Linked DNA regions of Homo sapiens. The protein of the gene in region 4 purifies or fractionates together with the protein of the main gene of each other region. This does not show direct contact. Each region holds a gene or a part of one and is shown on either strand. Other genes may lie near its edges.

Evidence for each region. Proteins that work in one complex are often made in the same cells at the same time.
Region 1: the proteins of SSTR2 (region 4) and PJA2 purify together in Homo sapiens (co-immunoprecipitation; one large-scale study listed by IntAct). This does not show direct contact.
Region 2: the proteins of SSTR2 (region 4) and TRIM44 purify together in Homo sapiens (co-immunoprecipitation; one large-scale study listed by IntAct). This does not show direct contact.
Region 3: the proteins of SSTR2 (region 4) and CELSR2 purify together in Homo sapiens (co-immunoprecipitation; one large-scale study listed by IntAct). This does not show direct contact.

What each region holds. Positions count from the first base shown.
Region 1 is NC_000005.10:109,403,475-109,406,974, forward strand, and holds part of PJA2 (E3 ubiquitin-protein ligase Praja-2), read right to left. Parts: intron 1-3,500.
Region 2 is NC_000011.10:35,665,775-35,669,274, reverse strand, and holds part of TRIM44 (tripartite motif-containing protein 44), read right to left. Parts: intron 1-3,500. UniProt on the Homo sapiens protein: May play a role in the process of differentiation and maturation of neuronal cells. May regulate the activity of TRIM17. Is a negative regulator of PAX6 expression.
Region 3 is NC_000001.11:109,256,039-109,259,538, reverse strand, and holds part of CELSR2 (cadherin EGF LAG seven-pass G-type receptor 2 precursor), read right to left. Parts: intron 1,108-3,500; coding exon 460-1,107; intron 1-459. UniProt on the Homo sapiens protein: Receptor that may have an important role in cell/cell signaling during nervous system formation.
Region 4 is NC_000017.11:73,171,510-73,175,009, reverse strand, and holds part of SSTR2 (somatostatin receptor type 2), read right to left. Parts: 3' UTR 1-3,500.

The DNA of each region.
Region 1 (3,500 bases), on a different chromosome or scaffold from region 4:
TCTTTTTCAAAAATATAAGAAACACTTTGCAACTCTATGAAACCAGCATTATATGAAAAAGTATCTTTCATGAACATAGATGCAAAAAAAAAAAAAATTTCACCAATTTATAAAAATGATAGTAGATAATACACCATCACCAAGTGAGGTTTAACCACAGAATGGAAGATGATTCAACATTCGCAAATAAGTTAACGTAATTCATCACATTAACACAGAAACAAACCATATGATCATCTCAATAAATACAGTAATAATACCTGACTAAAATCAACATCCACTCATGATTTAAAAAAAAAAAAAAAAAAAACTCTCTGCCAGGCGCAGTGGCTCATGCCTGTAATCCCAACACTTTGGGGGGCCAAGGCGGGCAGATCACGAGGTGAGGAGTTCAAGACCAGCCTGGCCAACATGGTAAAACCCCATTTCTACAAAAATACAAAAAAGTTAGCCAGGCTTGGTGGCGTGTACCTGTAATCCCAGCTACTCAGGGGGCTGAGGCAGAAGAATCACTTGAACCCAGGAGGCGGAGGCTGTAGTGAGCTGAGATGGTGCCACTGCCCTCCAGCCTGGGCAACAGAGCAAGACTCCATCTCAAAAACAACAACAACAACAACAACAACAACAAAAACCTCTCAGCAATCCAAGAATAGAATGGGAACATCCTCAATATGATAAAAGGCCACTTGTCTTAGTCCATTAGGACTCCTATAACAAGCTCCCATAGACTGAAGTGGCTTATAAACAACAGAAATTTATTTCTCGGCTGGGCGCGGTGGCTCACACCTGTAATTCCAGCACTTTGGGAGGCCAAGGCAGGTGGATTACCTGAGGTAAGGAGTTTGAGACCAGCCTGGCCAACATGGTAAAACCCCGTCTCTACTAAAAATACAAAAATTAGCCAGGCATGGTGACATACGCCTGTAATCCCAGCTACTCGGGAGGCTGAGGCAGAATTGCTTGAGCCTGGGAGACCGAGGTTGCAGCGAGCTGAGACTGCCACTGCACTCCAGCCTAGCCGACAGAGCAAGACTCTGTCAAAAAAAAATAGAAATAAAAATAAAAGAAATTTATTTTTCACAGTTCTGGAGGCTGGGAAGTCCAAAATCAAGGTGCTGGTAGATTCAGCGTTTGGTGAGAGCCACTTCCTGGTTCACAGACTGCAGTTTTTTCACTGTGTTCTCATACGGCATAAGGGGATAGGAGCTCTCTGGGACCTCTTTTATAAGCACACGAATCCATTAATGAAGGCAGAAGCTTCATGACCTAATCACCTCCTTGAGATCCCCCTCACAATGGGGATTATGTTTCAATGCTATGAATTTTGGAAGGGACATAAGCATTCAAGCTATAGCACCACTCTATCACACTCAATAATGAAAGATTCAAAGCTTTCTTCTTAAGATCAGGAACAGAGAAGGATATCTGCTTTCACCACTGCTATTCAACATCATAATGGAGGTCTTAGCCAGTCTAAGAAGAAGAAAAGGTGGAAGGAGTTACATATAAATTCAAAAATAATAAAACTGATCTATATTTGCAAATAACATGATTGTCTACATAGGACAATTCCAGAGAATCTACAAAAAATTTACTCAAATGAATGAATTTAGCAAGGTTGCAAGCATCAAGGTCCATATGCAAAAACCAACTGTATTTTTACATATAGCAGTGAATAACTGGAAACTAAAATTTAAGAAAATTATCACTTATAATGGTATCAATTATTAAATACTTAGATATAAATCCAACAAAATGAGCAACATCTTCATGCTGCAACTACAAAATGCTGACAAAGGAAATGAAAGAAGACCTACATAAATGGAGACAACCTGTATTCATGAATTGGAAGACTCAAGATGTCGATTCTTCCTAAATTGATCTATGCATTCGACACAAACCAAATTAAAATCCCTTCAGGTCTTTTTGTAGAAACCAACACGCAGCCTCTAAAAGCTTTACGGTAAAGTTAGAATAGCCAAGGCAATTTTGAAAAAGAATAAAGTTCAAGGATTCATATTACCTAATTTCAATACTTATAAGTAAAAATAACCATGATAACTCAGTACTGGCAAAATTATAGGCATAAAGATCAAGAGAAAAGTACAGGAACAGATTTACATATATGATCAACTGACTTTTGACAAAGTTAATTCAATGGGGAAAGGAAAGTAGTCCCAACAAATGGTGCTAGAACTACATATACATTTGAAAAGAAAATGAGCCTTGACCCTTACTACACACCATATACAAAAACTAACCCAAAATGGATAATGTGCCTTGACATGAAAGCCAAAACTAGAAAACTTATAGAAAAATCCTAAGAGTAAATCTGCACAACTTTGCATTAAGCAAAGAGTTCTTAGAACACAGAAGCACAAATCATAAGAAAAAGTTGGTAAGATGAATTTATCAAAATTAAAAGCTCTTCTTTTAAAGTTAGGAAAATAAAAAAAAAACAAGCTTCAGATTGCAGTGTGTGTGTGTGTTTATGTATCTCTGTGTGTCAAATGAGTTGTATAAAGAATGTATTAAAAAATGCTTACAACTCAATAAGACAAACCCATTTTTTTTTTTTTTTTTTTTTGAGACGGAGTCTCGCTCTGTCGCCCAGGCTGGAGTGCAGTGGCACGATCTTGGCTCACTGCGAGCTCCACCTCCCGGGTTCACGCCATTATCCTAACTCAGCCGGAGTAGCTGGCACTACAGGTATCCGCCACCACGCCCGGCTAATTTTTTGTATTTTTAGTAGAGATGGGGCTTCACCGTGTTAGCCAGGATGGTCTGGATCTCCTGACCTCGTGATCCGCCTGCCTCGGACTCCCAAAGTGCTGGGATTACAGGCGTGAGCCACCGCGCCAGGCCCACCCATTGTTGTTTGTTTGTTTTTTAATGAGCAAAAAATGTCAACAGATACTTCACAAAGGAAGACATACACTAGAGCAAATTCTCAGCACCATTAGTCATCTGGTAAATGCAAATCAAAATCCCAGTATGATACTACTATATACCCACTAAAAGGGCTAAAATTTAAAAGACTGAAATAACCAAGTGCTGAGGATGATGTGGAGCAATTGGAACTGTCATACACTGCTGATGGATATGTAAAATGTGACAACCACTCTGGAAAACAGTTTGGCAGTTTCTTATAAACATCCATGTATCATACAACCCAACAAGTTCCATGTCTAGGTATTTACCAAGAAAAAAAAGATGTTCACAAAAATTCAAAATAAATGAATGTTCATTGAATAAAGGAATGTTCAACAAATGAAGGCTATTTATTAATAACAGCCCCAAACTGGAAACAATCCAAGTATCTGTAAATAGGTGGAATGGTCAACAAACTAGTAAATCAATACCAAGGACTTCTATTCAGCAATAAAATGAGAACCCGTTAAATACAGAAAAACATGGATAATCCTGAAAAACATGCCAAGAGAAAAAGCCAGATACAAAAGAGTATGTATTACATCATTCCACTTACATGAAATTCTAGA
Region 2 (3,500 bases), on a different chromosome or scaffold from region 4:
AAAGTTTGGTCCAAGAAACCTCAAGAAATTAATTTAGTAGAAGGGGATTCTAAACAAGTTGTACTCTCAGGCCTTAGCAGAATCAAACTCGAATCCTCTCTTGAAGTATGCAGCTTCATGCAAGATTTGGAAAAGTCCCATAAGCAGTTTTTAAAAGGCAATGAGAAGCTACACAGCTACACAGAACCCAGCACAAAAAGAAATAAAAACATGAAACATGAAAAACTAAAAACAGCAGCAAAAAGAGGTCCACAAAGTCTTCACATACTAGAATTATCAGAGGCAGATTATCAATCAATATGCCTACAGTTCTTAAAGGAATAGCTAAGACAGCTACAGAATGAAAAAAAAAGAATTATGATTCACAAATTTATACTAGCACATTTGAAAATTTACATAAAATGGACAAACGTCTGAGAAAATGTAACTTATCAAAACTGACCTAAGAAAAAATAGACAACCTAGACAGACCTATGACTATTAAAGAAATTGAGTCCATAGTCAAAAATACTATGTAAAACAATAATACCTAGCAATCCCATTACTGGGTATACACCCAAAGGAAAATAGATTATTTTATTACACAGATACACGCACGTGTATGTTCACTGCAGTGCTATTCACAATAGCTAAGACACTGAATCAATTTAAATGCCCATCAGTGATAGACTGGATAAAGAAAATGTGGTACATATACCATGGAATACTATGCAGCCATAAAAAGGAATCCGATCATGTCCTTTGCAGGGACATGGATGGAGCCAGAAGCCATTATCCTCAGCAAACTAATGCAGGAACAGAAAACCAAATGCTGCATCTTCTCACTTACAAGTGGGAGCTGAATGATAGAACATATGAACACATTGTGGGGAACAACATACACTGGAGCCTGTCAGTGGATAGGGGGTGGGAGGAAGGAGAGCATCAGAAAGAATAGCTAATGGATGCTGGGCTTAATACCTAAGTGATGGGATGATCTGTGCAGCAAACCAGCATGGCACATGTTTACCTATGTAACAAACCTGCACATCCTGCACATGTACCCCAGAACTTAAAAGTTTGAAACTAAAAATAATAAAATGTTGGTGATCAGTTAAAAAATGTAAAACCAAAAAACAAAACAAAAGAAAGCACCAACAATAAACCAACTCTCCCTTCCCCCTTCACTCTCTCCAGGAATAGATGGCTTCCATGGTCAGTTCTACCAATCAATATAGGAAGAAATATTTCAATCTTTCACAAATACTTCCAGACCATTAAAAGAGAGAAAGAATATATAAGAAACACTACACTCTGCCTCAGACTATGAAGCCAAACTTTGATAGCAAAATCCCATAAGAACAGTAAAAGAACAATGATAGGCCAATTTCTCCCATAAATATAAATGAAAAAAAACTACATAAATTATTAATAAGCCAAATCCAAAAACATAAGGCTACTTCATTATGACCAAGTTGGATCAAGGATATCCCAGAAATGCTAGTCTTTCTGCTTTAATTATAAAATACAACAATACGAAGAGATGAAAGTAAGACCATATATATGCACACACCTATATTTGCAGAAACACACACCTGAAGGGTAACCAAAAAACTAATAAAAATGGTTATTGGCCAGGAACAGCCTGTAATCCCACAGCTGTAGGAGGTTGAGGCGGGAGGACTGCTTGAGGCTAGGAGTTCAAGACCAACTTGGGCAACATAGCAAGACACCCATCTCTACAAAATAAAAAATAAATAGTTAGCCAGGCATGGTGGCACACCTGTAGTCCTAGCAACTCAGGATGCTCAGGTGGGAGGATTGCTTAAGCCCAGGAATTTGAGATTACAGTGAGCTATGCTCCCACCACTGCATTCCAGCCTGATCAACAGAGTAAGATCCTGTTTCTAAGAAAAAACAAGTAGTTACCAACAGCTGGTAGAAGAATCAGGTGAAAAGGACACAGGCTTTTGAGGTATATGAATGTATCACTGATTTTAAAAATTAACTTTAATAAGTAAATCAATTAATGTAATTCATCATCATAAAAGTGAAAGAGAAAATCACATGATCATCCCAAAAGATGCAAAAAAAGCATTTGATATTAAATAACCAATCAAAATTCAGAAAAACTTAGCAAACCAGGACTAGAATTTTTTTAAACTGATAAAACATATCTATTTTCAAAAACCATAGAACATATCACTTATTTGTGCAATGTTATCAATTACTGCTAGACTAGGAACAAGGCCAGAATACCCACCAACCACATCCATTCAACATAATACTCGGGGTGCTATCCAATGCAGTAAGGCAAGAAAAAACAAATAACAGATATAAGGATTGAAAAGAAACAAACAAAAAGTATCTCTCTTCACACATAATACAATCAGGTATGTAGAATAAATCTACAGATAAATTATTAGGATATGTAAGATAATTCAGCAGATAGATCACAAAAAAACAATATATAAAAGTTAATCATATTCCTATATTCAATTAGAAAACAAAACTTAAAACCATTTATTTTTATTTTAGAGATAGGGTCTTGCCGTGTCGACCAGGCTGGAGGGAAATGGCAGGATCATAACTCACTGCAGCCTCAAACTCCTAGACTGAAGCAATCCTCCCACCTCAGCCTTCCATATAGCTGACAGGTGTGAGCCACTGTGCCTGGCTCATATTTTCTACAATATTATAAAATTATGAAGTATCTAGGAATAAATTTTACAATGATGTGAAAAATCTTTGAGGAAAAAAATATAAAACTTAACTGCGAAGCAATAAAAAAGACCTAAATTAATGAATCAGAAGACTTCATGTTGTAATGATATTAATTCTCCCTATATTGGCTTATAAATTTAATATCCAAATACACTCCTGCAGGCTTTTTAATACTATGATTCTAAGAAATGTAAAGTGCCAAAACTGGCCAACACACTCTTGTAGGACAAGATGGAAGGACCTGCTTTACCAGATATTAAGACATATTATAAAGGGATAACTGAGAAAACATGCTGTTCACACAGGGATATACTAACAGATAAACAGTAGAGAACAGAAGAACCAAGAAACACATTCACACATATTATGGGCACTTGATATATGACAGTGGGACAGCAAATCAGTGCACAAAGGAAGGGCTTTTCAATAAATACAGCAATAGCAATTGGCCATCTGTATGGAGAAAAAATGAAATTGCGCCCCTACTTCTACTACACAAAAATCAATACTAAGTAGAACAAGACACAAAAAGCACTAACCATAAGGAAAAGTATTGATAAGTTTTACCACATTAAAATGAAGAGCTTCTATTCAAGGCACAACTTCTTTAAAAAGAAAAACCACATAGAAGATATTTGCAACCCACATAGAAAGAACAACAAAAAAAATCAGAAACAAATATATAGCTGGGCACAGTGGCTAACACCTATAATCCCAACACTTTGGCAGGCAGATCACCTGAGGTCAGGAGTTCAAGACCAGCCTGGTCAACATGGCAAAAACATCTCTACTAAAAA
Region 3 (3,500 bases), on a different chromosome or scaffold from region 4:
TCAGCGTTCCCTTAAATCAAGGCCAACACCTTCCATGCCACCAGCTGTTTCCAAGTATCAAATTAATTACATTAATCCTCACAACCAACTTATGACCTAAGTACGGTCATTATCTCCATTTCAAATAACCGAGGGCCAGAAAGGTTAAGTAACTTGTTCAAGGTCACACAGCTACTAGCGGCAAAGCTGATACACGAACACAGGCCGACTGGCTCTGGAGCCAGCTCTGCCCACAATGGCACTGCCTGTGTGTCCTGTGCACAGCAGGGAGAAGCACTCCTTGCACTGCCTTCCTCAGTGGGGTGCTGTCAGGGAGCAGGCCGGATTTATGACCTCTCAGTGTAGCTGCACCTCACTCGGGAAGAGAATGAGGCAGCCGCCAGCATTTGTCCTGATTTGTGCCTGCACCACACAGTCAGCCTTCCAGGGCTGGCCCATGAGTCCCCTCCCTTGGCTCACCCGTGTAGCCATCACGACAGAGGCAGGTGTAGCCGCCCTCGCGGCTGCGGCAGCGCCCGTGGGGGCCACAGGGCCGCGAGTAGCAGAGGTCCACCTCGGTCTCGCAGTAGTCACCCGTGAAGCCGGGCGGGCAGCGGCAGCGCAGCCCTCCGACGGGGTGGATGGGCCGGAAGAGCACGGAGGAGGAGGCGATGAAGGGCGCGGAGGAGTCGAAGCGCAGCACCGACACGCAGCGCATGTAGTTCTCGCAGGGCTCCCGCAGGCAGATGTTGTCGTCGAAGGGCAGCACGCGCTGTGCCGAGATGGCCGTCAGCAGGCTGCGGTTGAGGTATAGGCGCTCCTGCAGGTCCTCAGAGGGCAGGAAGGGCGGCCCGCCCCCGGGCCCTGGCGGCTGGCCCACCGACAGGCTCACGTTGAGGATGTGGCCCCCGGGGGCGTCGGTGTCCCGCTGTACGTTGAAGACCACCACGTGGTCCGGTGGCGTGGCCAGCGTGGCGGCCACCGCCTGGATGAAGAGGCCTAGCAGTGGTGACAGGAAGCGCTCGGGTGACATGTCCTCCAGGCGCAGCGTGATGCTGTGGGTGAGCATCTCATCGGTGATGATGGTCACACGCAGCGCGCACTGGGCGGTCACGCTGTGTACGCCGTCTGTGGAGAGGGACACAGTCAGGACCCAGCCTGGGGCTGCAATTCAGCCTGCATATTCCTGCACCACCCACCAAGAAAGGCTCTCCTTTCCAACTGGCATAAGGGTGCTGAGCCAGGTATGTCACGTGTGGGCCAATCACTCCTTCAGGGCTCAGGGGATGAGATTTGCAGTTCTCTTTGCATCCTTTCCCAAAACCTTCTGTCGCTGATGCACGGCACACCTCTTAATGTTTGTGCACCTTTCCCTGCCCAAGCCACCGCTCCTGCTCCCTTCCCCCAGAGTCTGTGCTGCCTGCGCGGGAACCCTATGTTGTCTTTTTCATACTTTTCTACAGGGCCCAGAGCATCCTGAGACCCACAAAAATCATCCCCCTGCCCCCTCAGCCTCTACACCTCAACACCACGATAATCGCAACCATGGCTGTGTTCCCCACTCCCCCACAGCAGCAGGGAGTTGGCGGGGGTGGGGGGGAGTGGGTAAACTGGGTCAGTGGGCCACCTAGTCCCCCTCCCACTGAGCCCCATGGCTGCTTGGGCGCGCAGACCTGCTATCCCCATGGCAACATCCAACACAAAGCATTCTTCCCGCCCAACTCTCTGGGCTGCTGTGGGTAGCCTGGGGGGCCCCACCCCAGGAAATCCAGCTGAGCCACGTTAACCAGTGACATCATCACCCACTGCCCCATGCTGGAGACAGGGTGAGTCGGGGTGGGGGACCGGAAGGCAGAGATAGAAGGGCCTGGGCAGCTCTCCACTCTGAGACCCCAGAGCCCCACTGAGTCAGTCTCTTCTCTGGTCCTAGGGCCTCTAGCTACTCATCACCCACTTGGCTCAACCATTACACCCAAATGCCTGCTATGCCCCCAGGCAACACACTCACTTATAAACAGCTAAGCACTAAAACACACTTGCTGGTGTCTCATTCCACCCACACACCCTAAGCCCAGAAATACCATACACACCTGAATGCACATACACATGGGAATGAATTTTATTTAGCTAAAAAATGAAAGCTGGGGCCTGGAGAAGGAGGAAATGGCTTTACAGGGCAAGAAGGGATAGTCTTTTTTTTTTTTTTTTTAAGAGACAGACTCTCTGTCGCCTACACTGGAGAGCAGTGGCACGATCATAGCTCACTGTAGCCTCGAACTCCTGGGCTCAAGCGATCCTCCCACCTCAACCTCCCAAATAGCTGAGACCACAGGTGCTCACAACTATGCCTGGCTAATTTTTGTTTGTGTGTAGAGATGGGGTCTTGCTGTGTTGTCCAGGCTGGTCTCAAATTCCTGGCCTCAAGTGATCCTCCATCTCAGCCTTCTAGAGCACTGGGATTACAGGCATGAGCTACTGGCATATTCATATTTGTATTTATTACAATGCCTTACACATAGTAGGTGTTCAGAAAACACTGAGATGTGGATGACAATCTATTCAGTCTCCACAAAGAATAAACGGACTTTAAAACATAGCAGGGGGCCGGGCGCAGTGGCTCACGCCTGTAGTCCCAGAACTTTGGGAGGCTGAGGCGGGTGGATCACGAGGTCAGGAGTTCGAGATCAGACTGACCAACATGGTGAAACCCCGTCTCTACTAAAAATACAAAAATTAGTTGGGCGTGGTGGTGGGTGCCTGTAATCTCAGCTACTCAGGAGGTCCCAGATACTCAGGAGGCTGAGGCAGGAGAATTGCTTGAACCCAGGAGGCAGAGGTTGCAGTGAGCCGAGATCGCGCCATTGTACTCCAGCCTGGGTGACAGAGTGAGACTCTGTCCCAAACAAACAAACAAAACCACATAGCAGGGGGAGCCCAACTAGATATAAAAAGCAAATGCTTACCCTAGCAGTAACGGGGCAGGAGCCCATGTTTCTGGGGTGGGGTGGGAGTAGGCAAGGGACATGGGAACAAATTCTGCATCTGTGTTGTACCTACTTGCGGTGGCTGACTGTACCAGCGGTGGCTCAGCTGAAGCCGGGAAGGCTGAAAGCAGACCCCCATCTCAGCCATGTCCTCAGCCGACTGCCCACCTACCCTCCAGCCTCATCACTTGCTTATTCTCACTAGCTCTCACCAGCAAGCCTGCTTGTCATCACCCACTTCTGTTCCTCCTGCTCTCGTCTCAAAGCTGCTGCACAGGCTGTTCCTTCCCACCCAGACACCAGCCCACAGTCCTCTGAGTCTTCTAACCTGCCCTAGCTCACCTGCTCCAGGAAGCCTGCCCAGATTTATGTCATCAGGCTCTACTTTCCTCTCCGTTTCAGACTTCCCCGCACCAGGATGCTCAGCTGGCACAGAGCTCTTGTATACCTGGTATATCTGCCTAATGATTCCTTGACGGGATATTCCCTCCAGGCAGAAAGCAGCCCAAGACTCCACACACAGTGCCCATAACTGAT
Region 4 (3,500 bases):
TTTCTTTCTATTTTGACTGTTTAAAGAATTTTTATTAAAGCAAGAATTTTACAATCCAAATTACGTTTCCCTGCTCAGTTATCAATTCTGTTACTTAAAACAGAACTGATATTTTGAGCTGTTCTACAGTAAAGAATTACAAAATTAAAGAAAGGAATGCTTTAAATTTTTGTACTTTGCTGAAAATTCTTTTCCCCAGGGTCTATAAAACACTAATTTGTTTTTATATTTTACTATTTTTATGGGTTTTTGTTGTTGTTGTTTTTAAATCAACAGGTAACCTAAGACAAGCATTAATTTGCTAGACCTTCAGCCACTCTTCTTTAGCAAGGCCAAAGGTCATGTGTGCCTTACACTGTAACTTTACTGTCTTCATTGAATAGTCACATTCAGAGCTGATCAGGAATATGAATCTTTTTTTCTTTTCTTTTCTTTTCTTTTTTTTTTTTAAGGGCAGGGTCTCACCATATTGCCTAGGCTAGTCTCAAAATCCTGGGCTCAAGCGATTCCCCAGCCTCGGCCTCCCAAAGTGCTGAGATCACAGGTGTGAGCCACCATCCCCAGCCCGGAACATGCATTTTAACAGTCCATTGCTTCCTACCTGTCTCTGTGATCAGCCTGTGCACTTTTCCAGCACGGTGCTCCTCATCTAGGGCAGCTGGGGCTGCGAGTTTTGGCAAGAAACACTTGTATTCCATCATGGAGAGAAGGTTAAATTTGTGTAAGCAAATAGACTCCAGTTCACTGCCAGGTCTAGAAGCCTCATCCACTGGCCCGCGTGTTCCTCTCTGCATGCCATTTTATTCTCCAGTGTCCCTCTGCCATGCTATGTATGAACCCCACTTAAGTTTCTTTTTCTTCTTCCTTTTTTTTTTTTTTTTGAGATGGAGTCTTGTGCTGTCACCCAGGCTGAAGTGCAGTGGCGCGATCTTGGCTCACTGCAACCTTCGCCTCCCGGGTTCAAGCGATTCTCCTGTCTCAGCCTCCTGAGTAGCTGGGATTACAGGCACACGCCACCACACCCAGCTAATTTTTGTATTCTTAGTAGAGACAGGGTTTCCCCATGTTGGCCAGGCTGGTCTTGAACTCCTGACCTCAGGTAATCCACCCGCCTCAGCCTCCCAAAGTGCTGGGATTACAGGCATGAGCCACCGTGCCCAGCCCTGCTAAAGCTTCATCTACACGTCCAGTATTACCCAACTCTGTTACTGAAACACAAGCTAACATCATTCAACATAGGCCACAATATCATATTATTTTTCCCAATATCTTTTTCACTGAGTCCACTTAGGTTTAATCAGCACTTAACTACCCATGCTAATGGCGGGTAAGTAGCAGCTTGCATAACCCAAGTGATCAGATACTCTGAAATCAATGGGGTGCATTACTTTTTATTCCCTCCCAGCACCCAGCAGATTTGTCTTCATCATTAAATATGGAATGGAGACTAAAATTTTTGAATTAAAATGATGTTAACCTTTAAATTAGCATGTTGATTCTCTCTTTTAGATAAAAGAGAACCAGAGAGCAAGTTATCTTTGAAACAGATACTTCAAAAAGTAGAGAATAGCTTTCCCTATGGTAGAAACCTAACTGTGTATTTGGATGGAATTATAGCATCAGATTTAAAGGCCTGTCTTTTAGCCTTAGAATGGTCATCCTGCTGATGAAGACCCACAGATGCCTGGGTCTGCGTTTCATTTTCAGGTTACAGGTGGCTGCTTTGGACTCTGGCCTCCCTACAGGCAGTTTCTCTGGTTGCAGGGTCATGGGTACTATAGAATTAGTCTTTGTTTTTTTTTTTTGAGATGAAGTTTCGCTCTTGTTGCCCAGGCTGGAGTGCAATGGCACGATCTCAGCTCACCGCAATCTCCACCTCCTGGGTTCAAGCCATTCTCCTGTCTCAGCCTCCCAAGTAGCTGGGATTACAGGCGCCCGCCACCATGCCTGGGTAATTTTTTGTATTTTTAGTAGAGACAGGGTTTCACCATGTTGGCCAGGCTGGTCTTGAACTCTTGACCTCAGGCAATCCACCCACCTCAGCCTCCCAAAGTGTGGGATTACAGGCATAAGCCACCACGCCCGGCCTGTAGAATTAGTCTTCTCTGCCTTGAAATTATTTCTACCAATTCTTGGTCCCTTGGAATCATTTCCCTAAAACTCAGCATTTATTCAAGGACCCTGGAACATCTTATGTTATAATAATTGTAAAGTTAGGTCTAAAGCATTTTCTTCCAAATCTTTGCTTGTTTTTGTTTAAAAAAAAAAATCACACTTCGCTAAACATGGCTGCTAGGAAGCCCTGAGCTGAACTTACAGTTGACCTTACTTTTACTAATGGTGTGGGATTTTCCTGCATGCAATTTCTGCCACAACTTTTTCTGTAGTCTTGTTTTATAACTATACCTCTTTTTATTTTTGTATGGATTTATCTATCCAAAATCTTATTGAACATATTTTTCTGAGCCACAGGAAGTACTTTTGGGAGTGAGGTGGTGTGAATTTATACAGAACAAAAGCAGCACATTAAGAAGGACACCCACAGGTGGAGCACTTAGTCACTCCCACCGGCCAACAGCGCTTGCTTAGGGAGCCGGATGAGGAAAGCTCATTTAAAAATATGGTAACATCTATGTGTGAGATGCTGAGTGATGCTCTCAGATGAAACCCAAAGATGATGACATCCTTGCAGACACCCAGGTGTGTATTTCTTCATACTCTAGAAAATGATCAGTCAATGAAATGGATATTGTCTCTTTTCTTATCGCTTGTAAATGTCAGTTTGGGGAACGAAAAAAATGCCACTTTATGGTGTGAAGTGCCTGTCTACAATAGTCCTTGCAGAGCGGCTCAGTGAGTCCATGGCATTAAAGATATGACAGTTACTATGTATACAGTCAGTGAGGAAGGCAGCACAGCAGTATCTCCGAGAGGTGGGGCCCCACCAACACTCACACCACACCCCCTGCACGCTGCATATTCATTGGCAGGTGAGGGTGCTTTTGTTTTGTGAACAATGTCTTCTGGTCTTTAGTACGCATTGTGGTTTTCCTTTTTTTTTTTTTTTTTTTTTTTTTTTTTTTTTTTTGAGACTGAGTTTTGCTCTTGTTGCTCAGGCTAGAGTGCAGTGGCACAATCTCAGCTTACTGCAACCTCCACCTCCCAAGTTCAAGTGATTCTCCTGCCTCAGCCTCCCGAGCAGCTAGGATTACAGGCACGTGACACCACGCCCGACTAATTTACATATTTTTAGTAGTGATGGGGTTTCACCATGTTGGCCAGGCTGGTCTCGAACTCCTGACCTCGGGTGATCCACCCACCTCGGCCTCCCAAAGTGCTGGGATTACAGGTGTAAGCCACCACGCCCGGCCATGCATTGTGGTTTTCTTAATGCCCAGCTTTGTATGAAGTCCTCTAAAGTCCCCTTTGAGGAGTCGTCGAATTACATTTCCATTTTCTTTCATTAGGAAGCTATGTCTGGCCTGAAAAATAAAAACAAT